Homo sapiens: one gene and its partners. Each later gene encodes a partner of the first gene's protein in a complex. Each region holds a gene or a part of one and is shown in the gene's direction. Other genes may lie near its edges.

What was found.
Region 2: CRCP (region 1) and POLR3F share a complex: the UniProt entries of both Homo sapiens proteins name them as parts of the RNA polymerase III complex.
Region 3: CRCP (region 1) and POLR3C share a complex: the UniProt entries of both Homo sapiens proteins name them as parts of the RNA polymerase III complex.

The regions. Positions count from the first base shown.
Region 1 is NC_000007.14:66,115,409-66,126,916, forward strand, and holds part of CRCP (DNA-directed RNA polymerase III subunit RPC9), read left to right. Parts: intron 1-11,508. UniProt on the Homo sapiens protein: DNA-dependent RNA polymerase catalyzes the transcription of DNA into RNA using the four ribonucleoside triphosphates as substrates.
Region 2 is NC_000020.11:18,470,239-18,481,746, forward strand, and holds part of POLR3F (DNA-directed RNA polymerase III subunit RPC6), read left to right. Parts: intron 1-376; exon of another isoform or gene 377-453; intron 454-1,065; exon of another isoform or gene 1,066-1,127; intron 1,128-2,603; coding exon 2,604-2,671; intron 2,672-3,152; coding exon 3,153-3,220; intron 3,221-4,836; coding exon 4,837-4,949; intron 4,950-9,799; coding exon 9,800-9,943; intron 9,944-10,163; coding exon 10,164-10,271; intron 10,272-11,380; coding exon 11,381-11,508. UniProt on the Homo sapiens protein: DNA-dependent RNA polymerase catalyzes the transcription of DNA into RNA using the four ribonucleoside triphosphates as substrates.
Region 3 is NC_000001.11:145,839,177-145,847,387, forward strand, and holds the end of POLR3C (DNA-directed RNA polymerase III subunit RPC3), read left to right. Parts: intron 1-713; coding exon 714-815; intron 816-939; coding exon 940-989; intron 990-1,745; coding exon 1,746-1,895; intron 1,896-3,162; coding exon 3,163-3,244; 3' UTR 3,245-5,226; downstream 5,227-8,211. Other genes in the region: m7GpppN-mRNA hydrolase NUDT17, read left to right, coding at 6,465-6,656, 6,837-7,020, 7,257-7,282, 7,422-7,514, 8,074-8,172. UniProt on the Homo sapiens protein: DNA-dependent RNA polymerase catalyzes the transcription of DNA into RNA using the four ribonucleoside triphosphates as substrates.

The DNA.
Region 1 (11,508 bases):
CTGGAGAGCCCTCGGAAGAGCTGCCCTCGGAATTTGATGGGAGCAGTAAACACTGTGAGGGAAGGGGCTGGTTTTGGGGTGGAGAAGGGAAGGACGTGAACCAGGACTGGGACCAGAGAAACAGCAGGGGGTGTGTGGGTGTGTGTGCAAGGCGAGGGTAAAAGATTTTCTGACAGTTTAACTCCACGTGGTCTTTTCCATGCTTGCTCGTTGCGCCTGGTGCAAATGGAAGATTTTGCATCTACTCTGAATGTGGGCTTTATACGGTTGATATTAATTTGTAGGTATTACTATCTTGTGTTCTCTTTGAACTGATTATTTGATACAGTTTCCTTTATGTTCTTTTGCCTCATGTTTAATGGTTATATGTACTATGGCATTTCACATTTTTACATTTTTAATTAATTGTTTTTTCTTAAGAAACAGGGTCTTGCTCTGTCCCCCAGGCGGGGTGTAATCATGGTTCACTGCAGCCTCACTTTCTGGACTCAAGCAATCCTGCTTCAGCCTCTTCAGTAGCTGGGACTACAGGCCCACGCCATCACTCACCGCTAATTTTTTAAAAAAAGTTTTGTAGATGCAGGGTCTCACTACAGCCCAGGCTGGTCTCCAGCTCCTGAGCTCAAGTGATCCTCCTGCTTTGTACTCCCAAAGTCCTGGGATTGCAGGCGTGAGCCACTTCACCTGGCCTCTTCCGATTTTTTTTTAAACACAATATGTCTGTGTAACTGAAATGAAAGGCTCATGAAACAATAATGTGTGGCGTACACTCTCATATTGTCTATTTTTTATTAATATGAATGGGGCCAACCGTGGTGGCTCACACCAGCAATCCCAGCACTTTGGGAAGCTTAGGCAGAAGGATCACTTGAACCTGGGAGGTGGAGACCAGCCTGGGCAACATAGGGAGACCCTGTCTCTGCAAAAAATTAAGAAGTTAGCTGGGTGTGGTGGTTCATGCCTGTAGTCTCAGCTACTTACGAGGCTGAGATGGGAGGATCACTTGATCCCAGGAGGCTGCAATGAGCTGAGATAGAGCCACTACACTCCTGCCAGAGTGACAGTGTAAGGCTCTGTCTTAAAAAAAAAAAAAAAAAAAAATTGAACCACTGAATTAATTTTGCAACCCACTGATGGGATTTCATCTGCAACCTAAAAAACTATTCATATAATTTACTCTAGTCCAAGCCATCATTACTAATTTTTCCCTCTTTACTAGAGCATTTCCTGTGAGCATACAACCCTGCTTTAGAGAATTCATCTTAGAAAATCCTCCGTCCCCACATACATGTCCCCCTCTTACTCCATTTCTGCTTCCCATCCCAACAAAACTTCTTGAAAGTGCTGATTAGCCCCTCATTCTCTCAGCCATTCTGTTGGGCTTTCATCCTCACTGGTCTACGGGAATGACTGTTAAGATTACCTGAACCAGCGGGGCGTGGTGGCTCATGCCTATAATCGCAGCACTTTAGGAGGCCGAAGTGGGCGAATCCCCTGAGGTCAGGAGTTTGAGACCAGCCTGGCCAACATGGCATAACCTCCTCTCTACTAAAAATACAAAAATTAACTGGGTGTAGTGGTGGGCGCCTGTAATCCCAGTAACTCAGGAGGCTGAGGCAGGAGAATCGCTTGAACTCGGGAGGCAGGGGTTGCAGTGAACCAAATTGTGCCACTGCACTCCAGCCTAGGTGACAGGGCAAGACTGTCTCAAAAAAAAAAAAAAAAAAAACCTGATCCCTCCATCTTGTCAAATTCAGAGGTTGATTTTCTGGCCTCAACTTTCTTGATCTCTCAGCAGTGGTTAATACAGAAACTCTAGAAACTTTCCTTTTCTTGTGATGTATGTTCCTTTGCGTATTTCCTCCTACATCAAGGACTACTTCAGTGTCCTTCCCTGGGTCCCGTTCCTCTCTTGCTTGATGTCTAAGTGTTGAGTGGTATCTTAGGGCTCAGTCCTGGGACCCTTTCTCTCCACACTCTGTCATTTCACCCATCTATGTGCTGATGGTTCTCAAAGGTATGTTTCTAACCTTCTTCTCATCATCTATCCAATTGCATAGACCAAAAATCTAGCCCTCTCTCTTCACTCCCTAAATCCAGTCCATCAGTGGTCCTGTTGTTTCCACCCTAGAATATATTTTGAATGCAGTTACTTTTCACCATCTCCAATGTTAGCTTTGTAGTCCATCACCTCTGGGCTGGATTAAGCAATAGCCTTTGAGTGTTCACTCTTCCCCAGCCTCCATTCTGTTCTCCACATGGCAACTGGAGTGATCTTAAGTAATGATTGGAACATGTCGCTCCTGGGTAAAACCCTTCATTGACTTTCCATTGTACTTAGAGAAAATCTCCATCTCTTACCAGGACCTGCAAGACCCTGTAAAACCTCACCTACTCCCCAGCCTTACCACTTGCCACTCTCCCAACCTCCCAGACACACACTTTCCACTGACAGGTATTTCCTTCTCCTCTAACCTTCTAAGCACTTCCTGAGGACCATTGCGTTGTGGTACCCTCTGTCTGGTATACTTTCCTCCTCGCCCTCGTCCTGTTCTCTTCTTTTTATTGTTCTTTTTTTAGTTCGCTTTTGAGATGGAGTCTTGCTCTGTCACCCAGGCTGTAGTACAGTGGCGCAATGTCAGCTCACTGCAACCTGTGCCTCCAGGGTTCAAGATTCTCCTGCCTCAGCCTACCAAGTAGCTGGGATTACAGGCGTGTGCCACCACGCCCAGCTAATTTATGTATTTTTAGTAGAGACGGGGTTTCCATGTTGGCCAGACTGGTCTTGAATTCCTGACCTCAGGTGATTTGCCTGCCTCAGCCTCCCAAAGTGCTGGGATTACAGGCGTGAGCCACCACACCTGGCCACCTGTTCTTGAAGGTTGTGTCCCTTTTCAAAGTTGCCTTTCGTCTTCAGTAAGTCTAACTAACATAAGTTCTTTTTGTCTTTCATAGTACCTTGATTTACTTTCCCTCAAATAATTACAAGTTGCAATAATAAATGTATGTTTACTTGTTTGGAGGGTGGGGACCAGTGTCTGTTCACCTAGTGCTTAGCATTGCATCTGGCACACAGTAGGCATTCAGCAAATACTTGTTCAATAAAGTAATATAACAATACTTTATTAGCTTCATAAATATAGTCATCTCTCAGCGTCTTTGGGGGATTGGTTCTGGGACCCCCTGCGTATACCAAAATTCACAGATGCTCAAGTCCCTGATATAAAACGGTGTAGTATTTGCATATAATCTATGCACATTCTCCCATATACTTTAAATCATCTCTAGATGACTTATTATGATACCATGACATGTAATACCGGTTTTTGTCCATGGTTCCTGGCTCATAACTACCATAGCCTTTATTACTTCCTAAATGACTAAAACAGTAAGCATAACTTTTGTTAAAGTATTTGTCCTTTGTCCAAGGTTCCTGAAGCGGCCTTGGGACAGCTTCAGAGCAGTAAAGGTGAAAGACAGTCTTTTGTTAGAATGTTGGGGCACTCTAAGCCTCAGAAGCAGGCCTCAGAAAACAGAAGCTCTGTCTGTCTCTTGCCCTCTAATCATCCCCTGCCTTTCTGTCTTAGAGCTGGTTGTAAAGAAATTCTCTGACCTATCTCGTCTGATTGTTTCAGAGGGGGTCCTGCCCCTTACCCAGTAGGAAGGAATACCACACACAGAGGCCAGGGAGAATCTGGATGGGCCTTGCTGGGTGTCTGCACTCAGTCTTAGTATTAGATCACACTCTCTGTCCAGTCAATTACTGTGAGGTTGGCCATGCTTCAATCATCTCTCTAATGAAATCTCTACAAAACGCCCAAGAGAACTTCTGGATAGTCTAACAGGTGGAAGTTTCTGGAGGGTGGTATGCCTGGGGAGGGCATAGAGCTCTGCGCCCCCTCTCTATCCCTCACCCTGTGCACCACTTCATCTGTATGCTTGGTAATATCCTTTAAATAAACCAGTAAACCTAAGTAGGTGTTTTGTGAGCCATTCTAGCAAATTAATGAAGCCTAAAGAGGAGGTCTTGGGAACTGCAGCTTGAAGCCCGCCGTTGAGAAGTTCTGGAGGCCCTGACTTGTGTGACTGCTGTCTGAAGTAGGGGCAGTCTTCTGGGACTGAGCCCTCAGCCTGTGGAATCTCACACTGTTTTCAGATAGTGTCTGAAATGAATTGGATTGGAGGGTACCCAGCTGGTGTTGGCTGCAGAATTGATTGCTTGTTTATTGGTAGAGAGAAAACCCCACACATCTGGTCACAGAAGTCTTCTGTATTGATTGTTGTCGAGTGAGAGCAGAGGAAAAACTGTTTGATTATCAACCAACTTGTCATATCTGATGCAATGTAAAGGCTGTGTAAATAGTAGTTGTACTGTGTTGTTTAGGGAATAATGACAAAAAGCAGTCTATCCATGTTCAGTGTAGAGGCAGCCATCCTAGGCCTAACTACATAGTACATGTCAGCAACAATGTAGCATTTTCTTAAAATTTTTTTTTGCAGCCCGGTGCTCATGCCTGTAATCCCAGCACTTTGGGAGGCTGAGTGGGGCGGATCATGAGGTCAGGAGATCGAGACCATCCTGGCTAACACAGTGAAACCCCTTCTCTACTAAAAATAGAAAAAATTAGCTGGGCGCTGTGGCGGGCGCCCGTAGTCCCAGCTACTATCGGGAGGCTGAGGCAGGAGAATGGCGTGAACCCGGGAGGTGGAGCTTGCAGTGAGCCAAGATCGCACCACTGCACTCCAGCCTGGGCGATAGAGCGAGACCCCGTCTCAAAAAAAAAGAAAAAAAGAAAAAGAAAAAAAAATGTTTTTTGCATGTTTTTCATTTGAGGTTGGTTGAATCTAAGGATGTGGAACCTGAGGCTAAGGAAAGCCGACTGTATAAATTCATTAGCTAGCATCCTAGTTGCTAGGCGTGTATATTTTCTGATTTTCCTAAGTGAAATGGTTTGAATCACGGGGTTTTGTTCTTGTAACAGCCTGTCCCCTTCTGCCAAGTAGTCAGTGACTTCCTGTAACCAATCAAGAATTTTGCAGCCAGTAATTCATGGGAAAATGAGGTTTCCTGAGATAGACATGTGATTTGGGAGTGGAAGGGCCCTGGAGTGGAAAGGTCTGGAAGCCTAACTTCTGGTCCTCACCTGGTCTTCAACAGGAGGCGTGACCTTTGGAAGTCTGCTCCTTAGGATCTTTAGCAGAACCTTGAGTTGCAGATACAGTTGACCCTTGAACAACACGAGCTTGAACTTCATGGATCTCCTTATACGCAGATTTTAAAAAATAAATGCAGTTGGCCCTCCATATCTGCAGGTTCCACATCTGCAACCAAACACAGAGAATGAAAATATAGTATTTGAGGGATGAGAATATACCCACGTATGTGGAGAGCTGGCTTCCTAGCTGCTGGTTCTGCAAGGCTCTCTGGGACACAAGCATGTTTGGATTTTAGTATATGTGGGGGTCCTGGGACCAATCTCCAGTGAATACCAGGGGATGCCTGTATATTGTACCTCTATCAGACACTCCCAGAACCTGAAGTGAGGAGGCACAATGAACAGCTCCCCTAAGTTTTTGCTACTTTTTAAAATTCTGATTGAGGAAATACCTACTAAGTAACTAATACATAATAATAATAATAATAATAATAATAATAATACCTGAAATTTCTTCTTTTTTTTTTGAGATGGAGTTTCGCTCTTGTCACCCAGGCTGGAGTGCAATGGCGCAATCTCGGCTGACTGCAACCTCCGCCTCCCGAGTTCAAGCAGTCCTCCTGCCTGAGCCTACTGGGTAGCTGCCTGGCTAATTTTTGTATTTTCAGTAGAGATGGGGTTTCATCATGTTGGCCAGGCTGGTCTTGAACTCCTGAGCTCAGGTGATTCTACCGCCTCGGCCTCCGAAAGTGCTGGGATTACAGGCATGAGCCACCGCGCTGGCCCAGAAATTTATTTAAGGGGAGGAATATTTATGCTTTATTTGATTGACAATTTAAAAATAAAAATTTCTTGACCATTACTTGGAAATGTATTTTCGTCAAGTAAAAGCATACAATTTTTTTTTTTTTTTGAGATGGAGTCTCACTCCATCACCTAGGCTAGAGTGCAGTGGTGCAATCTCAGCTCACTGCAATCTCCACTTCCTGGATTCGAGCGATTCTTCTGCCTCAGCCTCCTGACTAGCTGGGACTACAGGCATGCGCCACCATGCAAAATATTTATATAGCAAAATTAGGTATTTCTATCTATAAGGTATTTGCTATTTGGCTTTGTCTATAAATGATCATTTATATGGCTGGAAAAGTTTGTATCCACTCTTTTATTCTTGAACGTAATATATATAATTGGGAAAATAGACATTATCCTCTGTACCATCTTTTTGAGGTAGTGTCAGGATTTCTTTCCTTTTACAGCTGGAAATACTCATATTTAGAAAAGGTGGGTAATAGGTACTATAACAACTCAGTAACAGGACTGGAAAGAGGATACTCATTTGCTAGCTCCCAAGAGAATGCTACAAGTTAAGTTGTTCATTGACTTCAGAAGCTGCTCCGTTTGCTTGTACCAGAGTTTAGGTTTTCAGAGCATGACTTGATAGCATAGGTTGGGCATAGGAGAATTTGAGCAATTATTTTCGTCATTGCCTGTGTAAGAGTTGACTGTGTGGCAATTAATAGGCACTGTTTGGCCGGGCACAGTGGCTCACGCCTGTAATCCCAGCACTTTGGGAGGCCGAGGTGGGTGGATCACAAGGTCAGGAGATCAAGACCATCCTGGCTAACACAGTGAAACCCCATCTCTACTAAAAATACAAAAAATTAGCCGGGCGTGGTGGTGGGTGCCCGTAGTCCCAGCTACTTGGGAGGCTGAGGCAGGAGAATGGCATGAACCCGGGTGGCGGAGTTTGCGGTGAGCTGAGATCGCGCCACTGCACTCCAGCCTGGGCGACAGAGCAAGACTCCGTCTCAAAAAAAAAAAAAAAAAAAAAGGCACTGTTTGCATGTGCCATTTGTGTATGTGTTTGCTTCTAAGGAAAGTCCACCAAGAGATCATTTTGTTCTGTTTATTTGGAATTCAGTTTCCTCAAGTAGTTGTTTACATCCACTTGACTCACCATTTTAAGCAAATTTTACAAGAAGTGTCAAATGGAAAGTCAGCTTCAGTCATCTAATTCATTACTTAAGGAAATTAAGTAACTGCCTGCCTGTAGTATAGATTTAGACAGTTGTTTTGTTTTTTTTTTTACTCAAGCATTGCTATGTTAATTTGCCAGGCTGCTTTTAGAAAGCACCAGACACTGGGTGGCTTAGACAGCAAACACTTGTTTTCTGACAGTTCGGGAGACTGGATCAAGGTGTAGCAGGTTTGGTTTCTTTTGAGGCCTCTTGCCTGAGCTTGCAGATTGCAAACTTCTTGATATGTTCTCACATGGTCTCTCCTCTGTGTGCACAAGTCCCTGGACTTTTTTCTAGACAGTCTTTAAAATGCACTTAGAGTATTTGCTTTAAACACATGTCAATAAAATGAGTACTATTCTTTCTTTCTTTCTTTTTTTTTTTTTTTTTGAGATGGAGTCTCGCTCTGTCGCCCAGGCTGGAGTGCAGTAGCCCCATCTCGGCACACTGTAAGCTCCGCCTCCCGGGTTCACGCCATTCTCCTGCCTCAGCCTCCTGAGTAGCTGGGATTACAGGCGCCCGCCACTACGCCCGGCTAATTTTTTGTATTTTTAGTAGAGACGGGGTTTCACCGTGTTAGCCAGGATGGTCTTGATCTCCTGATCTCGTGATGCGCCCGACTTGGCCTCCCAAAGTGCCGGGATTACAGGTGTGAGCCACTGCGCCTGGCGTAAAATGAGTACTATTCTAAGTCCTACAGGAGAATATGAAGTTTTGTATAGGTAAGCAGTTTCTAGAAGTCTGATTGCATGTGAATATATTACATAATACTAAAGTGTTAGCTGTAGAGCAGACAGTTCCTGCTTTGTAGAGATCAACAGCTTCTACGTTTATAATTGCTAGATGTGTCTATTAAGTTCTAATAGCTCTAAAAAACTTTTAGATGCCTGGTATGGTGGCTCACGCCTGTAATCCCAGTACTTTGGGAGGGCAAAGCGGTCAGATCACCTGAGGTCAGGAGTTTGAGACCAGCCTGACCAACATGGAGAAACCCCGTCTCTACTAAAAATACAAAATTAGCCAGGTGTGGTGGCTCATGCCTGTAATACCAGCTACTTGGGAGGCTGAGGCAGGAGAATCGCTTGAACTCGGGAAGTGGAGGTTATGGTGAGCTGAGATCATGCCATTGCACTCCAGCCTGGGCAACAAGAGCGAAACTCTTGTCTCAAAAAAAAAAAAAGGTGGGGGGGCCGGGCGCAGTGGCTGAGGCCTGTAATCCCAGCACTTTGGGAGGCCGAGGCGGGCGGATCATAAGGTCAGGAGATCGAGACCATCCTGGCTAACATGGTGAAATCCCGTCTGTACTAAAAAAATGAGCCGGGCGTGGTGGCTGGCGCCTGTAGTCCCAGCTACTCCAGAGGCTGAGGCAGGAGAATGGCGTGAACCCGGGAGGCGGAGCTTGCAGTGAGCCGAGATCGCGCCACTGCACTCCAGCCTGGGTGACAGAGTGAGACTCCGTCTCAAAAAAAAAAAAAAAAAAAAAAAAAAAAAAAAAAAAGCCATGCCCAGTGGCTCACTCCTGTAATCCCAGCACTTTGGGAGGCCGAGGCGGGCGGATCACGAGGTCAGGAGATCGAGACCATCCTGGCTAACACAGTGAAACCCCGTCTCTACCAAAAATACAAAAAATTAGCCGGGCTGATGGCGGGTGCCTGTAGTCCCAGCTGCTTGGGAGGCTGAGGCAGGAGAATGGCATGAACCTGGGAGGCGGAGCTTGCAGCGAGCCGAGATCGCACCATTGCACTCCAGCCTGGGAGACAGAGCGAGACTCCTTCTCAAAAAAAAACTAAAAATAAAAAGAATGCCACAAATACCTGTATACGCGTTACCTAGAGTCACCACTTGTTAACATTTTGATTCTGATATTTGCTGCCTTTTCCTTTTTCTCTTTTCTTTTTTCTTTTCCCTCCCTCCTCCCTCCCTCCCTCCCTTCCTTCCTTCCTCCCTCCTTCCCTTCCTTCCTTCCTTTCTTTCTTCCTTTCTTGTTTTTGATTAGAGACACTTGAGCCCAGGCTGGATTCAAACTCCGGGACGAAGTGATCCTCCTGTCTCAGCCCGGAGTAGCTGGGATGACAGGTGTGAGCCACAATGCCTGGCATTCCCTTATTTCTTTTGCACAGGCATGAGCTTTCTCTCCATACACAGGTGCACACACTTACTTTACTGAACCATTAGAGAGTTGTAGATAGCAGATCATTTCACCCCTTCTTGAAAAAGGGCATTCTATGTAGCTACAGTCGCCTTATCACACTCAGGAAACTTAGCGATGATAATCTACTATTATTAAGATACAATGTAAACTCACATTTCTTCAGTTGCCATAATAGTGTTCTTTTTCCTCCCAATTCAGGATCCAGTGAAGAACTACACATTGCATTTAGTTGTCATGTTTCTTTAATTTCCTTTCCTCTGGAAGTTTCCTTAGCTTCTTTTTGTGACATTGGCACTGTGACAGATGACATTGATATTTGAAGAGTCTAAATTTAACCCAGTTGTTTTGAAGACTGTTCCTCAATTTGGAATTCTCTGATTATATCCTCATGGATAGATTTGAATTAAACATCTTGGGGCTGGATTGCTCTGAGGGATGTGTCTTTCTCATGCGTCACATCATTGGTGCTGTGAAATTGGATAACTTGATTAAGTTGATGTCTGTCTGGTTTCACCATATCCTGTTGCCAACAACCTGTCGTTTAGTGGTGGTTACAGTAACTTCTCAAAGATAAAAACTGCCTTTAAAAAAATTCCCCAATACATACAGCTCGTTTAGGACTTCATAAAAGGTAGATAAAGTACCTCTTGACATTTTATTAAATAAGGAAAGGCCTAGCATACATTGATTGGCATTTATTCTGTGAATATTTAGCTGGGTTTTAAAAAAATTTATCTTCCTGATAAAATCAATGAATAAATCAGCTTCTGTCAGCCAGAGTCTGTTACACAGAGTACCTGTGTAAACATCAATTGGTTCTCTTGATCCCAAAACACAGATTCATTAAAACTTATGTGAAAGAGGGTTTTCCTCCTTTATATTCGTTCTAGAAGAGGCAGAGGGTGTTCTTTGGATTCTTGCATTACACTATTGACTTGTTTAGTGGGGTAGTAACTTGGAATGGCCAAGGACAAATTTCCCACGACGTGGAATATTCTGAATGACAGAGAAGGGGCCATTATTTGGAAATAAAGTTGTAACAGTGCACCTGCGATGGATCCATTGGCCCTGAAGAGAAAAAACATTCATATTTTTTCTCGAGTCAAGTATTCCAGGAAGGGATGTTTTAATGCCTCATATTTTGGAGAGCACAGGGAGTTATAACTCAATTTCAAGCAAAGATAGGAGGAAGCCAGTGGGCAGATTTCCTGATTAAGCAGGCAAAGATGACATGTGGTTTGATTTGTCATTTTCAATTTTAAATGAACTCTGTCACATGCACTAATTATGCATTGTCCTTCCTGTGTTAGATTCCTTTCAAATATGATACTCTTTGTGACTTCAGTGTGTTTGTGGTCATTTGGGCAAAGCAGCACTTTTGTGAAATCGTAGCTTGAATCACTGGTAGCATTTGGTAAGCTTCACAGAGCTGATTTGATTATAGTGCTGACATCACTGTGCTGATGACCTAAGGCCGAGGTCTATCTCTTTGTGAACCACTGTTAGTTTTGCTTTATTTATTGACTCGGAAGTCACCTATCTGGCCCATGCTTTTGAAGTCTTGGGTCATCATTTGGATCATCTCGCCACACTCCTGGTTTAAGAACATACAGAGGTCTCTGTTGCACATTACAAATCAAGTGCAGACCCCTCTACCTGATTTTTAAGGATTCTGCATGACCAGTTTCCATTCATCCAGTTCAGTCTCATTTCCCACAGTTCCATAGTTACCTTCCACTTTATTTAGACTTCTTACTGTGTGACCTTGAGCAAGTTACTTAATTTCTGAGTCTTGTGCTTTATCTCTGCAGAGTAGGAATCATACGAATAGCTCCTACATCACAGGGTTTTCAGTGAGAATTAACTGGGATAATATCTTTTACAAATAATAGCCTTCCATTATGGAGATGTTAATACAAGTACCAAGAACTATTCTAAACTTTTAAAATTTGTTGTCTCATTTTATCATAACAGTTTGATGAGGTAGGAGTTGCTGGTGGTAGTGGTAGTTGCCCAGATAGTAGTAGTGATAATGTTGGTGCTTATTGAGCACTTACTATGTTCCAAGTACTTTACATGTTTCCAGTGAACCCTGTGAACAGTCTTACAAGGTTGATACTATAGTTGCCGTTTCATAGATAGGAAATGTAAGCATAATGAGATTAAGTAACTTGCCTAGATT
Region 2 (11,508 bases), on another chromosome or scaffold:
TCTACTAGCCTTGTTGGATTTCCAAGGGCTCTGGATGTGGAGATTTGGGGTCCGATGAATCTTTTCTTAAACCTTTCCCATCAATTTTCTAGCTCAGGAGTTGGCAAACTTTTTCTATAAAGTGCCAGACAGTATATGTTTTAGGCTTTGTGAGCCATATGATTTCTGTCACAACTACACTGTCATTTTAGCAAGAAGCAGCCATGGATGATGATACATAAACAAATGGCTACAGCCATGTTCCAACAAAACTTTGGTTATAAAAACAAGCTGTGGAGCAGATTGCTCACCCCTGTTCTAGCCCAAGGACAAAGGAATGTTGCTGATTTCTAGTTATTTCACTGTGGTGAAGGTCTTCAGCTCTAGGAAAGACAGAGGAAGGGATTCTGGGAGGTTGTAGCAGTGGAAAAAGTTCTTTTCTTCCTCTGATCGCCCTCTCAGCTCTTTCCTTCTGACTGAAAATCATCTTCAGCACCTCTCTTTTACCACCTCTGCCACCACCCACCCACTGCGAGTCCTATTGGCTATAGGTTGTATGCAGGCAGTAGTAGAGCTATCAAAGGATATTAAGAAAGGGAGTGATTATTAATAAATCATGTAATGTTTCTGATTTTAGCTCTTAAAAACAGTTCTTAAATTTGCTGTCCACACCCCCTCCATTTCTATCCCTGGTACTGCATCATGTTCAGGCTCATGGCTTTTACCTGGACAGCTGCAGTAGCATCTTAACTGGTTTCCATGACTCCATCTGTCTCAGAGAAGCCAGCCTGATTTGGGATTACAGTCATGAGCCACCGAGCCTGGCCCCTGATCTGTCTTAAATGCAGGTCTGACCAAGGCACTCTACCACCTACAATTTGTTTATACTGGAGATTCAAGTTCAAACTCCTGGGTTTCCCACACTGAGTCCCTGCATTGTTCACCAGCCTCATCTCCACCACTCTACTTCAAAAGTTAGGTTTCAGGAGGAGCAGATTGTTTTTGGTTTCTGGCCACATCATGCTGTTTCGTGCCACAGGACTCATGTTGTTCCCCTGCTTAGAAGGTTCTTCTTATTCTTTACAGATGACTAACGCATTAGGACTCAACTCTGCCATTGTCTCCAGGAAGTCACTGAACCCCCCCAGGTTGGGCCGCAGCCTGTTCTCCGAGTACCCAATCTGGGAGTTCAGGGTGGCTTTACTTACCTCTATCTTAATGCCAACCAGATGGGTATTGAAGTCACCTGTGTGTTTCCCTTTTAGAATTAATGTTGTTCCCCCAAACACCTATCATAACACCTGGCACAGTACAAGTATTCAGTAAATATTCATAAGCTGGATAAATGACCAGAGCCTCTGGATTGGGCCTTGTAGTCCTACTTTGCCACTTCGTGGGGTCAGGGAACAGGAGTGTGTCACTGTTCATTCAGTATGTAAATCCATTTCCAAGTCATGAGTGTCTGTTTTAAAACAAGGGAATGGGCTGGGCACAGTGGCTCCTGCCAGTAATCCCAGCACTTTGGGAGGCCGAGGTAGGCGGATCACTAGAGGCCAGGAGTTCAAGATCAGCCTGGCCAACATGGCCTAACCCTATCTCTACTAAAATACAAATATCAGCGTGGCATGGTGGCATACACCTGTAATGCTAGCTACTTGGGAGGCTGAGGCACGAGAATCGCATGAACCCGGGAGGCAGAGGTTGCAGTGAGCCGAGATTGTGCCACGGCACACCAGCCTGGGTGACAGAGTGAGACTCTGTCTCTAAATAAATACATAAATAAACAAGGGAATAGCGTCCCTCTCAACTGTGGCTTTCTAGTACTTCCAGAGCCTAGTGGTATAATTATCTGGGTTCTCTTAAGTTCGGACCCAAGGAAATTCAGGAGCATGACAGACATACTTTATTTTACTTTTGATTTGCTATATAAAAACAATACTACTCTAGTCCTTTTATTCATTGGCTGACTTCAGTAAATGTCACTGTTAACTTTTTTTGTTTTTTGTTTTGTTTGTTTTTTGCTTTTCAAGATGGAGTCTTGCTCTGTTGCCCAGGCTGGAGTGCAGTGGTGCGATCTCAGCTCAGCCTTCCATGTAGCCGGGACTACAGGCGCATGCCACTGCACCTGGCTAATTTTTGTATTTTTAGTAGAGACAGGTTTTCGCCATGTTAGCCAGGCTGGTCTCAAACTCTTGACCTCAAATGGACCACCTGCCTTGACCTCCCAAAGTGCTGAGATTACAGGTGTGAGCCACCACGCCCAGCCATTAACTTTATAAATTTTATTTTTCACTGTGCAACAGAATATGCCTATTTAGTCTTTATTTCAACTTTTTATTTATATAAATTATATTTTTATTTTATATATGTAATTTGGATTTATATTGATTTTTAATATAGATTGTTATTCTCAAGCTGCTTTTTAAAAATTCTTTATGCATTGATCATATAACCAAGCCAAGATCTAGCCTACAGGAAATTGTTAGTGATATTTTGAAAAATTTTGAGATTAAAGAGCAGGTTTTGAAAAATTAAGAATGTTAAAGAATGCATCAACATTTGTCATTTGATTTAACATATCTCCAAAATAACTGACTCCTGTTTTCTACTGTCTTAAAAACTAGGGTCAGTTGGATCTCTTAAGGAGCAATACGGGCCTTTTATATAGAATAAAGGACTCTCAGAATGCTGGGTAAGTACTTGTTTTTTTAATTTTAAGAAAATGTTTATTATTTGCAAACGTATGTGTTGGGAATAAAGCTAATACAAAATTACATAAACCTGTCCTGTGTATCATCCCTGCCTCCTATGATATATTCCATTTCCCAGAGGTAACTGCTCTTAATAATTTAGTGTATATCCTTTCTTCTAGCTATATATAAATACACATAGATGATTATATATTTATATATAATCTTTCTCTTTTTTTTTTAACAAAAATGGAATCATGCTATCCATTCTGTTTTGCAATTTGTTTTTTTCACTTACTGTATCTTGGACATCTTTTCATGTTGGTACACACAGCTCTGTCTCATTCTATTTAAGGTAAGCCTTTCTTTTGGTAAATATGTCACTGTGGTGACCTTGTCTGCTAATTTTGTTTAAGTAGTGATGTAGATTATTAGATTATCCTATAGTCCTTACCTTACTAATTTTACTTTATTCCACTACAGTAAAATGAAGGGATCCGATAACCAAGAAAAACTAGTATATCAAATCATAGAGGATGCAGGAAATAAAGGTAAGCATGTGAAAGATGAAGCAGAAAAAAACATTGTCTTTGGAACTAGATATAGGGACCCAGATCTCAGCTTCCCAGGGTAGAACTCAGTGGACAGAGTATACTGAGGAAGGTAATAGAACATACAAATATAACATGCATGTGCTTGAAGGACACCCAAGAGTAAGGCCGTTGTTGCCTTGAAAGAGACAAGAACTAAAGGGCTGTGTCCAGGGATGGAAAAAGACGTCTGAATTCTGAGTCACATGAATGTATTATCTATTCAAAATAAATAAAATTTAAGTTTTTTTTTTAAATCTGTACCTTCTAGCTATATGACCATGGACAAGTTACTTAAACTTTGTGAGCTTCAGTTTCTTTATCTTATCTATAAATTGTGGATGCTGACACCTCTCGTTTTTGCAAGGACCAAAAGGAAAGCTGGTGTGGTGTAGCAGTGTCTTAACAGATGTCCCTCCGCAGCTATAGTTTCTCTTCTACCCGCTTGAAGAACTGTATCTAAATTGCAATCCTAAGTTACAATAATTTGGGATCTATTTGAGTCATTGATATTAGCTGGAAAAATTGAGATGTAATCTGAAATTACATAACTAATTCTTATATTTATTAAAATTAACATTTTTAAAAATAGTCCTATGAGAAAGCCATTCTGCATATTTTTTTAATCTTCCTATCTCATATGCCATTACATTGGGAAGAAAATAAAGCAAAATATTTACATACATTCCCTTTCCATATATAACACTTATTTCCTTCTTTGAAAAAGAAATCATTGCTTCTCACACAGGGCTTTTAGCAGCCATAAGAACCCTAGGCTTCCTTTTCCATCTCACAAATACAATGTTGTATAAATAATGGATTACATGCATGCAGACACTCATCTAAAGAGTGTTTTTGTCCCACTTGAGGATGGCAGTTGACCTTGACCCAAATTTAAGTTTGTATTTCACATTTACAATCTAAAATGAAAGTATCAGAAAACAGAGATAAGGGTACAGATGATAAAATTCCATTGCATCCATGATTTTTCCTTCCATTATAAAAACGTCGTTTTCATAATTTTTTTTTTCTTTTTTTTGAGATGGAGTCTTGCTCTGTTGCCCAGGCTGGAGTGCAATGGTGTGATCTCGGCTCAGTGCAACCTCCGCCTCCCGGGTTCAAACGAGTCTCATGCCTCAGCCTCCCGAGTAGCTAGGACTACAGGTGCATGCCATCAGGCCCGGCTAATTATTTTTGTATTTTTAGTAGGGACAGAGTTTCACCATGTTGGCCAGGCTGGTCTCAAACTCCTGAGCTCAGGTGACCCACCTGCCTCGGCCTCCCTAAGTGCTGGGATTACAGGCATGAGCCACCATGCCCAGCCCTTTCCATAAGTTTTTTAAAAGTTTGCCACACTGGGATTCCAAGAAATTTCTAGTTAGAAATTATAAATCATTATAATAAGTCTTACAAAGCATTATACTTATTTATTGTTTAGCATACTTTTGCTACTTTAGCCAGCATTCTTTACTGTTAGCTTTATACTGCTAGCTTTGGAATGAGACACAAGTTAGAGGAATAACATTAAAAATCCATGAAAACCAGAGTTCAACTTATTTTACTTTACTTTCTTATAGGAATATGGAGCAGAGATATCCGCTATAAAAGTAATTTGCCATTAACAGAAATCAACAAAATTCTGAAGAATCTGGAAAGTAAAAAGCTTATCAAAGCTGTTAAGTCTGTAGCAGTGAGTAGTCCTTTCCTCAGATACCCACTTACATATGTTGCTTCAAGTTTTTATTCTTGAAGTTATGTCATGATTTAGAACAGCTGGTCAAAAAAGACTTAAAAATTTAGCTCATGTTGGATTGGTTTGGAGATGCTGCTTAGACTTGTCCCTACACAGTTAGCTCTTGGTGTCTCACTCACCCACTCAAAAATCTAAAACTACTTTACTGTCTTCAGTGAAGAATCTTTGGAACTGTGAACATTTTTCCTAGATTTTGTGGTGTGTAAGATAATTTACTTTATCCCGACATATTAGCTTTCTCATTCAACAAAGAGTGTTTGCTGTGTGCCAGACACTGTTTTGAGTGCTTGGGATACATTAATGAACAAGTCGTAGAAAGATCCCTGCCTTGGTGGAGCTTCTCTTCTAGTACACGTGTGTTTTTCCTGCTCCTCATCCTGCCCCACCCCTGCTCCAGAGCTGGCTCCCTCGGGGACATCTGCCCCTGACCTCACTGATTTAGACATCAGAGGAACTGAGATTCCCCTAGAATAAAGTTTGCTTCAATACACATTTCATAAGAATTACAGCTATAATTCAAATTTTATAATTTCAGAGCTGTTAGGTCTGTGGCAGTGAGTAGACCTTTCCTCAAATATCCGCTTACATATGTTGCTTCAAGTTTTTATTTTTGAATAAAACAAGAATTATAAGAATTATAACATCACTTATAAGAATTTGATGCTTATTAGTGATTTTATTTATCAGAATAGCATTTCCCTTCCACATTGTTTAATGGATAATTTCAAATATATACAAAGGTAGAAAAAATCATATAATAAAACCCTATCATGTAGCCTCATTTTGTCAGTCCTCCTTCTACATCTTTATGTTTAATAACAGCTCTGCTGAAATATAATTCATCATTCATACTACAGAATTCATTCAACCTTTTAAAGTGTAAAATCTTTGGATTTACAGTCACTGGTTTTTACTATAAGCTAAGAGTTGTGCAACCATCACCGCTGTTCTAATTTTAGAACATTTTCATCACCCCCAAATGTGGCCACTAGTATTTGTTTCCCAGCCTCTCTTTCCATAGGCCCTAAAAACGAATAATTTATTTTCTGCCTTTATTATAGATTTGCCTATTCTGGACAGTTCCTATAAATGGAATAATAGAATATGTAGTCTTTTATGTATGACTACTTTGACTTAGCATGATGTTTTCAAGATTTATCCATATTGTGCTTTATTCCTTCTTATTGCCAATTAAAATTCCATTGTATAGATGTATATCACCTTTTGTTCATTCATCCGTTGGTGAACTTCTGTGTCCTTTTAAGGGTTAAAATAATCTTAGATCTCAGTGTAAAGTGCAAAACTATAAAACTTTTTGAAGAAAACATAGAAAATCTACATGACCTTGGCTTTGTTAATGAATTCTTGGACTATAACTCCAATAGTAGTCTATGAAAGAAAATGTTAATAAGTTGGAGTTTATCAAAATTTTTTGAAAACCTCTGCTTTGCAAGACACATTAAGAGAATGAAAAGACAAGTTACATACTAAAAGATATTTGCAAATCACATATTTGATAAAGGACTTGTCTCCAAAATATACAAAGAACTCCTAAAATTCAGCAATAAGAAAACAACACTTTGGGAGGCCAAGGCGGGTGGATCACCTGAGGTCAGGAGTTCAAGTCTAGCCTCACCAACATGGTGAAACCCTGTCTCTACTAAAAATACAAAATTATCCAGGCGTGGTGGCACATGTCTGTAATCCCAGCTACTTGGGAGGCTGAGGCAGGAGAATTGCTTGAACCCAGGAGGCAGAGGTTGCAGTGAGCAAGATTGCACCATTGTACTCCAGCCTGGGCAACAAAAGCGAAACTCCATCTCAAAAAAAGAAAAAAAAAAAAAAACACACAATGAAAACAAATAATCCAACTAAAAATGAGCAAAAGATCTGAACCTCACCAAAGAAGACATACAGATGGCAGATAAGCATATGAAAAGATGCTCTACATTATTTTTCATTAGAGAACTGCAAATTAAAATAAAATTTAGTATAGTGAGATACCACTACACACCTATTAGAATAGCTAAAATCTAAAAATTGGTAATACCATATGCTGACAAGATACAGACCAAGATGAACACTCATACATTGCTAAGAATGCAAAATTTTCAGTCCTTTTGTTAAAAAACTGGGCAGTTTTTACAAAACTAAACAGAGTCTTACCACATTGTCCAAAGGTCAAGCTCTTAAGTATTTACCCAACTGATTTGAAAACTCATGTCCACATAACTACATGAATATTTATAGCAGCTTTATTCGTAATCAGCAGCTTTATTCATAATCAAAAACTGGAAGCAACCAAGGTATCCTTCAATAGGTGAATGGATAGACAAACCAGAATAGTATTCAGTTATAAAAAGAAATAAGCTATCATGAAAAGATATGAGTAAATCTTAAATGCATATTGCTAAGTAAAAGAAGCCAGTCCGAAAAGGCTACATACTGTATGATTACAACTATATGACATACTGGAAAAGGCAAAACTAGACAGACTAAAAAGATCGGGGTGAGGGCAGGGATGGTAGGGAAAGTTGAATAGGTGAAGCATGAGAAATATTTCTAGGGTGGTGAAATTATTTTGTATGACAGAAGCATTAACCAAATTTGGAAGCCCACCCAAGCTTTGCTGTCCAAAGTTTTTATTAGGGTTTCATTATACAGGCATGATTGATTGAATCCTTGGTCATGTGAGTGAATTCAATCTCCAGCTCCTCTCTTCTCCCAAGAGATTGGACTGATGTCATGTGGCCCAAAGCCCCAACCCTCTAATCATGCGGTTGGTCTTTCCAGCATGGACAACTCCTATCCTGAAACTATTTAGAGTCCTATCAGGAGTCACCTTGTTAGCATAAACCCAGGTGTGATCTAAGGGATTCACCATGAATAACAAGGCCTATTGGGAAATTCCAAAGATGTAGAAGTTATTTCCTAGGAAAAAGGGACAAAGTCTAGCCAAATTTTTTTCTTTTTTTTTTTTTTTGAGACATGGTCTGGCTCTGTCACCCAGACTGGAGTGCAGTGGCACAATCACAGCTCACTGCAGCATCAACCTCCTGGGCTCAAGCCATCCTCCCACCACAGCCTTCCAAGTAGCTGGGACTATAGGCACGTGCCACCATGCTCAGCTAATTTTTGTATTTTTGTAGAGACAGGGTTTTACTATGTTACCCAGGCCTGTCTTGAACTCCTAGACTTAAAGATCTGCCCACCTCAGCCTCCCAAAGTGCTGGGATTACAGGCATAAGCCACCATGCCTGGCCCAAATTCTTCATGTTTACAACCCAGTGAAATTTGGGTTCCTCAGTGTTGGGGTGAGTAGTTACAGACAAACAAGGAAAGTTAGAATGATCCATGTAGTAATGGATTAGACTTGAAAACATCAGTATGGACTCTTGTGTAATTTAATATAAATAATATAGATGGTTATATTTAGAAATATTGAGTATAGCTATGTATATATACAAGGGTTAATATGCGCACATAAATCTCGTGCTGCCAACTGAGAAGGCCTAGAAGTGATGACATCCCGATGGCAATGAACACATCTAGTGCCCAAGTCGTGGTTTCTATCATGCAATAAAATGAACATGTAGAAAATGCTCCTGACGGCTGGGCAGGGTGGTTCATGCCTGTAATCCCAGCACTTTGGGAGGCCAAGGAGGGTGGATCACCTGAGGTCAGGAATTAGAGACCAGCTTGGCCAACATGGTGAAACCCCATCTCTACTGAAAATACAAAAAAATTAGCTGGGCATAGTGACGGGCGCCTGTAATCCCAGCTACTCGGGAGGCTGAGACAGGAGAATCGCTTGAACCTGGGAGGTGGAGGTTGCAGTAAGCTGAGATCGTGTGCCATTGCACTCCAGCCTGGCAACAAGAGCGAAACTCCGTTTCAAAAAAAAAAAGAAAAGAAAATGCTCTTGACATCTTGTAGTGCTAGAAAGTAAGAAAGTGCTACAATAGCTGGACACGGGGGCTCATGCCTGTAATCCCAGCACTTTGGGAGGCTGAGGCGGGAGGATCACGAGGTCAAGAGATCGAGACCATCCTGGCCAACATGGTGACACCCCCGTCTCTGCTAAAAATACAAAAATTAGCTGGGCATGGTGGCACATGCCTGTAGCCCCAGCTACTCGGGAGGCTGAGGCAGGAGAATCACTTGAACCCAAGAGGCAGAGGTTGCAGTGAACCAAGATTGCACCAGTGCACGCCAGCCTGGGCGACAGTGCAAGACCCTGTCTCCAAAAGAAAAAAAAAAGTGCTAAAATACACACACACACGATGGGAGCATAGCAAAGGGATACAGGAACCAAGTGAAAAGCTTCCAATGCCCAAAGCATTCCAAAGCTTCCAGTGTGGGAATAACAATGAAGTATCTGAATGTAAATCAAAGTATAAAATAAATACTCATGAGTCCATAGTGATAGAAATACGGTGTTTGAGAAACTGTCACAACTAAAAGAAGCCTGAGAGAGATGACTAAATGTAGTATGATGTCCTGGATGGAATCCTGGAGCAGAAAAGGAACATTAGGACTAATGAAATCTGAATAAAGTATGGCATTTAGTTAGTAATGATTTATCAATATTAGTTCATTAATTGTGACAAGTGTACCACACTAATCCAAGATGTTAAAAATAGGGGAAACAGCATGATGTATATAGGAGCTCTGTGTACTATCTTTGCAATAATTTTGTACATCTTAAACTGTTCCAAAATATAGGTGTTTTTGTTTTTGGAAATTGTTATCTTATAAACACATGAACTGTGCATGTTCTTTCCTAGGCCTCAAAAAAGAAGGTGTATATGCTCTATAACCTGCAGCCAGACCGGTCTGTGACTGGTGGAGCCTGGTACAGTGACCAGGATTTTGAATCTGAATTTGTAGAGGTGCTTAACCAACAGTGTTTTAAATTCCTACAGTCCAAGGTGAGGTATGATTGAGGAAACATCACTGCAAACCCTCTTGTAAAAAGTTTTTCACAAAGGATTTTAATCTATTTATCATATTTTATAGGAATTAAAAACCTGAAATTGGGAATTTTTACTTAACTAAATATGTTCTGTTGTTGGTTTGACTCAGTATAAAGTGTATTCAGAAAACACACCAATATTCTTATTTACATTTCTTATGTTTCAATCCTTATAGGCAGAAACAGCACGAGAAAGCAAACAGAACCCAATGATACAAAGAAATAGTTCATTTGCCTCATCACATGAAGTGTGGAAATATATCTGCGAATTGGGAATCAGTAAGGTCAGAACTGAATTTCATCTTATTTTTTAAAACTTATTCTTTGTCACATACAATGTATTCCAAACATGTATTTGACCCACATTGTTTTTTTTTTTTGAGATGATAGCTACGAACATTCTGCAGAATCCACTTTGGGAAAATACTGTCCTGTATCTTAGGCAAAGGCAGTCACTGCCATTGGGCATTGTCTGAACTGATACTCAGCTTGGGACACTGATGCTTTTTTTATTTTTTTGGAGGTAGGGTCTCATTTTGTTGCCCAGGCTGGTTTTGAACTTCTGGACTCAAGTGATCCTCCTGCGTTGGCCTCCCAAAGTGCCACTGTACCCTAGCCTTTTGAAATTCTTTTTTTAAGGACACTGATGCTTTTCACAGTGAAGAAATCAAAGTGGCCATTTTGGACATGTCACTTTAATTTCCTGGGCCTCAGATTTCTCATAAAAACTAGGAACTTGGACTATTTGATGTCTAAAGTGCCTTTCTGCTCAAGCATTTTATAAATCTCCAATAAATTCCTGCTAAAGAAATGTTATTTTTTATAAGATTTCTCGATTTTACTTAGGAAGTAAAGATACCAGAAAGTGTCAAACTCAGCATGAGCTTAGAGTTCTGTCCCTGGCACCTCAGTGGTTTGTGCTAACTTGGCCTATTGTTCCTCCTCTTTGTGCTTTAAATTACTCCACCCCAGCATAATGTTTCTCCCATTTCACAGCAGAATTATGACCCTTTACTGTTTTATTTATTTATTTGAGATGGAGTTTGGCTCTTGTTGCCCAGGCTGGAGTACAGTAGTGCGATCTCAGCTCACTGCAACTTCCGTCTCCCGGGTTCAAGCCATTCTCCTGCCTCAGCCTCCCGAGTAGGTGGGATTACAAGTGCCTGCCACCATACCCAGCTAATTGTATTTTTAGTAGAGACAGGGTTTTGCCATGTTGGCCAGGCTGGTCTCGAACTCCTGACCTCAAGTGATCCACCTGCCTCGGCTTCCCAAAGTGCTGGGATTACAGGCGTGAGCCACTGCGCCCAGCAACCCTTTACTGTTTTTAACACCCTCCAAGTGGATGTCTCCCTATCCTACTTGTGTCCTTTCTGATGTATCCCTTTTTTAGGTAGAGTTATCCATGGAAGACATTGAAACCATCCTGAATACACTCATTTATGATGGAAAAGTGGAGATGACGATTATTGCTGCAAAAGAAGGCACAGTTGGCAGTGTAGATGGACACATGAAACTGTA
Region 3 (8,211 bases), on another chromosome or scaffold:
AGGAGAATTGCTTGAACCTGGGAGGCAGAGGTTGCAGTGAGCCAACATTGTGCCACTGCACTCCAGCCTGGGCAACAGAGCAAGACTCTGTCTCAAAAATAATAATAATACGACTTTTTGTAAAGATCAAATAGAATTTACCTGGCACATAGAGTTGTTCAGTAAATGTTAGTTGCCCTCCCTTTCTTCCCCAGCTCAGGATGCTGACAGTCAAATGGAAAAAACAGGGAAGCCCAGCTCTCCATTTGACTGATTATGACATAAACCACAAAGACTGGGCCGGGCACACCTGTATTCTCAGCACTTTGGGAAACCAAGGCGGGATGATCACTTGAGCCCAGGAATTCAAGACCAGCCTGGAAAATATAGTGAGACCATGTCTCCACCACCCCCAAAAGATTAAAAAATTAGCGGAGCATGGTGGTGCATGCCTGTAGTTCCGGCTACTTGGGGGACTGAGGTGGGAGGATTGCTTGAGCCGGAGGTGGAAGTTGCAGTGAGCTGATATCATGCCACCGCACTCCATCCTAGGTAACAGAGCAAGACCCAGTCTCAAAATAAATAAATAAAATAAACACAGGTACTGAATGACTAGGAAACAGGAAAGTGTAAGTAAAAAGGAGGGCTAAGTAACTCCAGGTAGAATGAGTGTGTGCTTTGCCAGTTCTAAAACAGTATAATTTCTGCTATTTTTCTTTCTATTGGACAAATAGGAAATTCCCAAAACACCAGACCATGCCCCATCCAGGACCTTCTATTTATATACTGTGAACATCCTGTCAGCTGCCCGAATGTTGTTGCACAGGTGCTACAAGGTAACTCAATCTGGACCTTCTCCCCATTTCCTCCATACGGTCAAGTACCCCTCATGTGCCCACTTCGCCCTGAGCTGCTGAAATAGAACTATGTGCATTCCTTGTCTGTCTTCTCTTTCCTCAGAGCATAGCCAACTTGATAGAAAGGAGGCAATTTGAAACCAAAGAGAATAAGTAAGTAACATTTTCAGTTGAGTTATTTACATCTTTCAAGATCAAGGGCCTCAGGGGAAATTTCCTCTAGAAATAGGAATCAATAGACGCTGGGCCTGGCAGGGTGGCTCATGCCTGTAATCCCAGCACTTCGGGAGGCTGAGGCAGGTGGATCACTTGAGGTCAGGAGTTTGAGACCAACCTGGCCAACATGGTGAAACCCTGTCTTCACTAAAAATACAAAAATTAGCTGGGCATGGTGGCGGGCACCTATAGTCCCAGCTACTCGGGAGGCTAAGGCAGGAGAATCACTTAAACCCAGTGAGTGGAGGTTGCAGTGAACCAAGATCACGCCACTGCACTCCAGCCTGGGCGACAAAGTGAGACTCCATCTCAAAAAAAAAAATTTTTTTTTTGAGAAGTAGGAACCAGTAGAGATAGCAACCAGTCTACTTGCATTGAATCATTGGCTTAGATTAGTGTAAATCATGCATTAGTCTACACTTTTCTAACATGCTCCCAGTGAAATAATTTTTCAGATTAAATTTGTGAGAAACGTACAAAAGCACCAAACTTTTAAGTGCAAATGAGAGGCAATAAGAATTTCAGGAGTGAAGTTATATTTCCAAATAAGTTTGTAGAAAATGTCCTTAGAAGGTGACATTATCTACTTTGATCAGGAAAATGGTAAAGGGTGGTGGGTAGTGCCTCAGACACACGTGGTAAGAGAATCTCCCAGGTTAGGGAAGATGTCTCAGAGTTGTGTTTGTTTGACAGGCGTCTACTAGAAAAATCTCAGAGGGTAGAAGCCATCATTGCATCTATGCAGGCTACTGGTGCAGAGGAAGCACAGTTACAAGAAATAGAGGAGATGATCACAGCTCCTGAACGTCAGCAGCTAGAGACCCTGAAACGTAATGTCAACAAGTAAGCATCATAAACTTCAGACCTGCATTTCAGAATACCATCCAGAAAATCCATTTTGACCTCCTGTAACCCTCCAGCTTAGCATGAGCAAACCTAAACTCACTGTCTCCTCCAGCTCACTTAACAGAATTTAATCCACCTATTTTTGTAAACTAGCAATTCTGAAGATGTTCTGAGCTTCTTCTCCATCACCATATACACTCTCTTGTTCATCAAGTACTGATAAATTTTTTTTAAGAGACGGGGTTTTGGCTGTGTTGCCCAGACTGGCCTTGAACTCGTAGGTTCAAACAGTCTTCCTGCCTCAGCCTCCCAAGTAGCTGGGACTACAGGCAAGTGCCACTGCGCTGGCTTAATTTTACTTGAGTCATGTGTCTCAAATCTGGCCTTTCATCTTGGTCCACACGCAGGCCTTCATCACCTCTTTCCTAGACCTTCACATTTCAGTGCACAATTTGTGCACCTCTTTCATTAAATTTATTTCTTAAGTATTTTTTTGGATACTAGTTTAGTGGTCGCTTATTTCAGTTTTAGATTGTTCATTGCTAGTGTTATACAAAAACAACCAACTTTGGTGTTGTGATTTTGTATCCCACAACTTTACTAAATTCATTTATTAATTCTAGTAGTTTTTTTGCAGATTCTTTGAGATTTTTTATAATAGGATTATGTCATCCATGAATAGAGAGAGTTTTACTTCTGTCTTTTCAATCTAGATGCCTTTACTTTTTTTTTTTCCTGCCCCATTACCCTGGCTAGAACCTCCAGTAAAAGGTTGAATAGAAGTACAAAAGCAGACATCTTTGTTTTGTTTCTGATCTTAGGAGAAAAGCTTTTAGTCTTTCACCATTAAGTATGATGTTAGCTGTGGGTTTTTCCTAGATGGCTTTTGTCAGGCTGAAGAAGCTTCCATTTCTTCCTAATCACCACTCACTTTAAGCTTCAGACACTCTTAGTTTCTTGCTATTTTAAAACACACTAGGTCCTTTTATACCTGTGCCTTTACGTTCGTTTTCCTGATTGCAAATGAAGACTACCTTCCCCCAGGACAGAGGCTCTGTATTTTGTATTCTTAGCAGTTTGCATGGTGTCTGGCACATAAAGATGCTCGGTAAATAGCAAAATGATCTACTGGTTCTCCTGCTTTCTTTCCATCCACTCTCAAGGGTAACCAAGCAGTTATCCATGGCCACACCCACCCTAACCTCTAATCTTAAATATGCTAATGAACATTCAGTCTAGGCAAATGCCTTTACTTTTCACTCAGGTTGGATGCCAGTGAGATCCAGGTGGACGAAACCATCTTCCTGCTGGAGTCTTACATTGAGTGCACCATGAAGAGACAGTGATCCAGAAGAAGCATCTTCCTCAGAAGATCTGGGGGGATGGAAAGCAAAATAAAGGAGGTGCCTGGATGCATTATTTGCAGTGGGATAAGTCGCAGAGTCTTCAACTAAACCCCCCTCTCTATCCCCTGCAGCCCAGGATACACCTGAAAGAATTTGGCATATTTAGATCCATTGCTGTAGTCTCCCCTCATCAAATCTTGGCAGTGGGAAGAACCTTAAATCAACAAGGTTAATCATCTATCAGATGCATCTGTTCCCATAAAGAAGTTACCCACACCTATGGTTACCTATATCCCTGGCAATAGGAAACTTCCTAAGAAGTTAATTTTATTTTCAGATGTCTATGCCTGTTCTTTATTTTGTTGAGATAGGTGATAGATAGATAGATAGATAGATAATTTGTTGTTGTTGAGACAGGATCTCACTCTGTCACTCAGGCTGGGGTGTAATAGCGCAATCACAGCTCCCTACAGCCTTGACCTCCTGAGCTCAAGCAGTCCTTCCACCTCAGCCTCTGGAGTAGCTGGGACTACAGGCATGCACCACACATACCCAGCTATTTTTTATTTATTTATTTATTTTTTTGTAGAGACAGGGCCTCCCTGTGTTGCCCAGGCTGATGAACTGTAATTTTTAACACACACAGTGTAGGGAATGTGAAAGACTATCACAGAGTAGAAGAAAAAATTATTTTCAGGGTTAGCAGGTGGATTGTCCCAAGCAGTCACACTAGAATCTGTGGACTGAAGCCACATTTGCCAGCTCCAGGCTTCTAACACATCTGAAACTGTGTATGTAGAACAGCTAGCTCAATGCCTGGCATATGGTAAGCACACAGTAAATTAGCGCCTTCCTCTTCTCCATGGTTCCTTAAAACTGGCAACGCTAAATTCTCTCTCTCAGTATCACGGATATAATTTGTCCCAGCAGCTTTAATTCATTTAAAGCAGTTAGATGTTTTATAATATCTTCAGTTTTCTCTCACCAATGTGTTTTCTAATTGTTTAAACACTTGAGTGTCAAACAATTGCCAGCCACCATACTAAACACAACATACAAGGATAGATAAATAAGACACCATCTCTGCCCTCAAGCCAGTCACCATCATTTACTAAGCACCTGTTTTGTGCTAAGTACTGGGGTAAGCCTTGGGGATATAAAGATTAATAAATTTTGAGCATACAGTCTAGTAGGAGGAGACAAATAAGTACATAAGTACCAGGAAGTATTAGGGGTGCTACAGTAGAAGAGTAAACACTATGTACAGAGAGGCCAGAAAGGGAAAAGGGTCAGGCAGGGAAGGGAACACAGAGAGTGACAATGTATAGTTTGAAAGATGAGGATGCTTTATTTGCAAACTATCTTAACAAGGGATTCGTAACCAGAATATATAAGGAGCTCAAACAATAGCAAAAAGAACAATCCAACTTAAAAATGGCCAAAAGATCTTAATAGGTAGTTTTCGAAAGAAGATACACAAATGGCCGACAGATACATCAAAAAATGTTCAACATCACTAATCAGAGAAATGGAAATCAAAATCAATGAGATAACATCTCACCCCAATTCATTACTTTTATCAAGAAGAAAGAATGAATGCTAGTGAGGATGTGGAAAAAGGAGAGCCCTGCCTGGTACACTGTTGGGAATGTAAATTGGTACAGCCACTGTGGAAGACTACAGAGGTTCCTCAAAAAACTAAAAACAGAACTATGCTCCAGCAGTTCCACTACTGGGTATATATATATCTCCAAAAGGAAAGAAATCAATGTATCAAAAAGATACCTGCACTCCCATGTTTATTGCAGCAGTATTCACGATAGCCAAAACATGGAATCAACCTAAGTGCCCATCAATAGATGAAAGGCTAAAGAAAATGTATTATTCAGCCATAAGAATGAATGAAATCCTGTCATTGGCAGCAACATGGATGGAATTGGAGGTCATTATGTTAAGTAAAATAAACCAAGCACAGAAACAAATATTGCATGTTCTGTCTCACATAGGAGCTAAAAAAGTGGATCTCAAGAAAATAAAGAATAGATTGGTAGTTACCAGAGGCTAGGAAGGATGGGGAGGATGAAGAGAGGTTGATTAGTGGGCACAGATAATACAGTTTGAAGAAGTAAGACTGGTGTTGGATAGATCAGGGTGGCATAGTTATTAATTTACTGTACATTTCAAAACAGCTAGAAGATAATTTTGATGGTGCCTAAATCCTGTAATCCCAACACACTGGGAGGATCAGTTGAAGCCAGGAGTTCAAGAACAGCCTGGGCAACAGTGAGATTTCATCGTTACAAAAAAATTTAAAAATTAGCCAGGTGTGGGTAGTGCACATCTGTAATCACAGCTACTCAGGAGGCTGAGACGGGAGAAGCGCTTGAACCAGGGAGGTGGAGGTTGCAGTGAGCTGAGATGGCGCCACTGCACTCCAGCCTGGGTGACAGAGCGAGACTCCGTCTCAAAAAAAAAAAAAGGCCGCGCGTGGTGGTGGGCGCCCTGTAATCCCAGCTACTACTTCGGAAGCTAAAGCACGAGAATCGCTTCAACCTGGGAGATGGAGGTTGCAGTGAGCTGGGATCACACCAGTGCACTCCTGTCTGGGCTGTAGAGTGAGACTCTCAAAACAAAACATCACTCTGGCAGCACTGTAGAGAATGAACTGGTAGGGGCAAGACTATTTGGAGACTTGCAATAATATTTCAGGCAAAATACGAGGAAGGCTTAAACTAGGGCAATGAATGAAGGCTGGAGAGAACATGGGTTTGAGGAAGTTTAAGGAGATAGCATCTGCATACTTGGTTGCCATTTGAGTGAAGTGAAAGGAGAAGTGGTATCGAAAATGTTATTTGGTGTGTTTCGCTTGGAGATAATTAATTCGAAGTGATGCCTGCTGTAACAGGTGTGCATAGTGCTGTAGAGGATGCTTACAGTTCAGCTTAGGGCTGGTTGGAAGTAACATGTGGGTCCTGAAGTCATTCGGTCTGGGGGTCATTGTCCTAAACAGAGAAGATAGGAAGGAATAGGAGCTGAGCATTTAGAGGTATTCTTCTTTGTGGTTTAATATTATACCCATGGGTCATCCTCAAAAGATGTGCCCTTATTTCCCCGGGGACTTTCGGAAACCCCGCTACGACCCCGCGGAACGTTCCGAGGGGAAGCTTCTCTAGGCCACCAGAGGGCGCCAGGCGGGCCGCAGCGACTCCAGAGTCGCGTTATGGCCGAGGTGCGGGTGCAGCTGCTCCTGTCCCGGCGTCCGGAGTCGGTGAGCTTCGCACGGAGTGTGTGTGGCCTCCTGGGAGCCGGACCAGGGCTCGGGACGTGGCCCATTCACTGCAGCTTGAAGCGAGGACGGCTTGTCCTCTCGAGCAGGCCCTTCCCAGGCGCCTCCGCTAGGCTTCCGCTCCAGGTCGGCAGAAGGGGGCCCCAGAGCGGGGGCAGTGAAGGGCCAAAGATGGGGACTGAAATCGGGTGGGAACTGGCGGCGAGGACCCCGCCCCCAACGCGCGGTGTAGCCCCATTTTTGGAAGTCACGCCCACCCAGTGCCGCCCTTCTGAAGCCTTAACCCAGCTGGCTTCCTTCTGCCAGCGACCCCCTTTCTGCCCTTTTGCGGCCCTGGAGGAGCGGCCCAGGGTCCCTGGGGCTGAGCTGCCCACAGATCGAGGTGTGGACCTGGGTGTGGCCGTCATTCTGCAGTCCAGCGACAAGACTGTCTTGCTAACCCGAAGGGCACGCACCCTGAGCGTTTCCCCCAACCTCTGGGTACCCCCGGGTGAGTATTCTGGGGACAAGGCCCCAAGTACAGAGAAGAAATTTGCCCTTTCCCCGCAACAATGTTTTTCCCAGTCTCAGAAGGATAAAGTGGGCCCCAAAATGTGGCATGTTCATAGTCACAAGGGACTGCAACTCCCTCTGTGTCCACTGGAGGGGAGAGGAGTGTCAACAGTGAGTGGGGGCTCCCTGGCCAAGACCACCACCATTCACCTACTGGCCCCACTGTTGTTGCAGGTGGGCACGTGGAACTTGAGGAGGAGGTAACCAGTCAGCTGATCCAACCTGAGCCAAGAGACCCATGCCTGGGACCATCTTGGGTGTGGGCTGAGGGAGAGGCAAGCAAAAGGACTTGGAAGAGTCAGGCACTGGCCCCTCTGATGTGTCTTCTCTGACTCCCAGCTGCTGGACGGAGGGCTTCGAGAACTTTGGGAGGAGAGTGGACTACACCTGCCCCAGGGCCAGTTCTCTTGGGTCCCTCTGGGTTTATGGGAGGTGAGACAAGTAGCTGGGAGAAGCTCCTCCATAGATCAGCCCCTACCTGCCTTGGCTACAAGGGAAACAATAGCACATAAGTGGGCTGGAATCCCCAAATCCATAACCCTCACCCATGTCCCTGCTGTGTCATCTGTACCATCCACGCCCTCAGCTTTTGGCCACCATTTTGTTTCACCCTAAAGCTGTATTAACAAAGTCTCAAAAAGTGACACAAAGGGCCGGGTGCGGTGGCTCACGCCTGTAATCCCAACACTTTGGGAGGCTGAGGTGGGCGGATCACCTGAGGTCAGAAGTTTGAGACCAGCCTGGACAACATGGCGAAACCCCGTCTCTACTAAAAATACAAAAATTTTAGCTGGGCGTGGCGGCAGGCGCCTGTAATCCCAGCTACTCTGGAGGCTGAGGCTGGAGAATTGCTTGAACCCAGGAGGCAGAGGTTGCAGTGAGCCAAGATCACGCCATTGCATGCCAGCCTGGGCGACAAGAGCGAAACTCCATCTTAAAAAAAAAAAAAAAGTGACGGAAAGTTCTCACTTTTGCTGTTTTCTTTTCCTAGTCTGCCTACCCTCCTAGGCTGAGCTGGGGTTTACCCAAATACCATCACATTGTTCTGTATCTACTCGTGATCTCCCAGGAATCACAGCAGCAGTTGCAGGTAGGGCTGGCAGTGAGGGAAGGAAACAGGGCTCAGGGG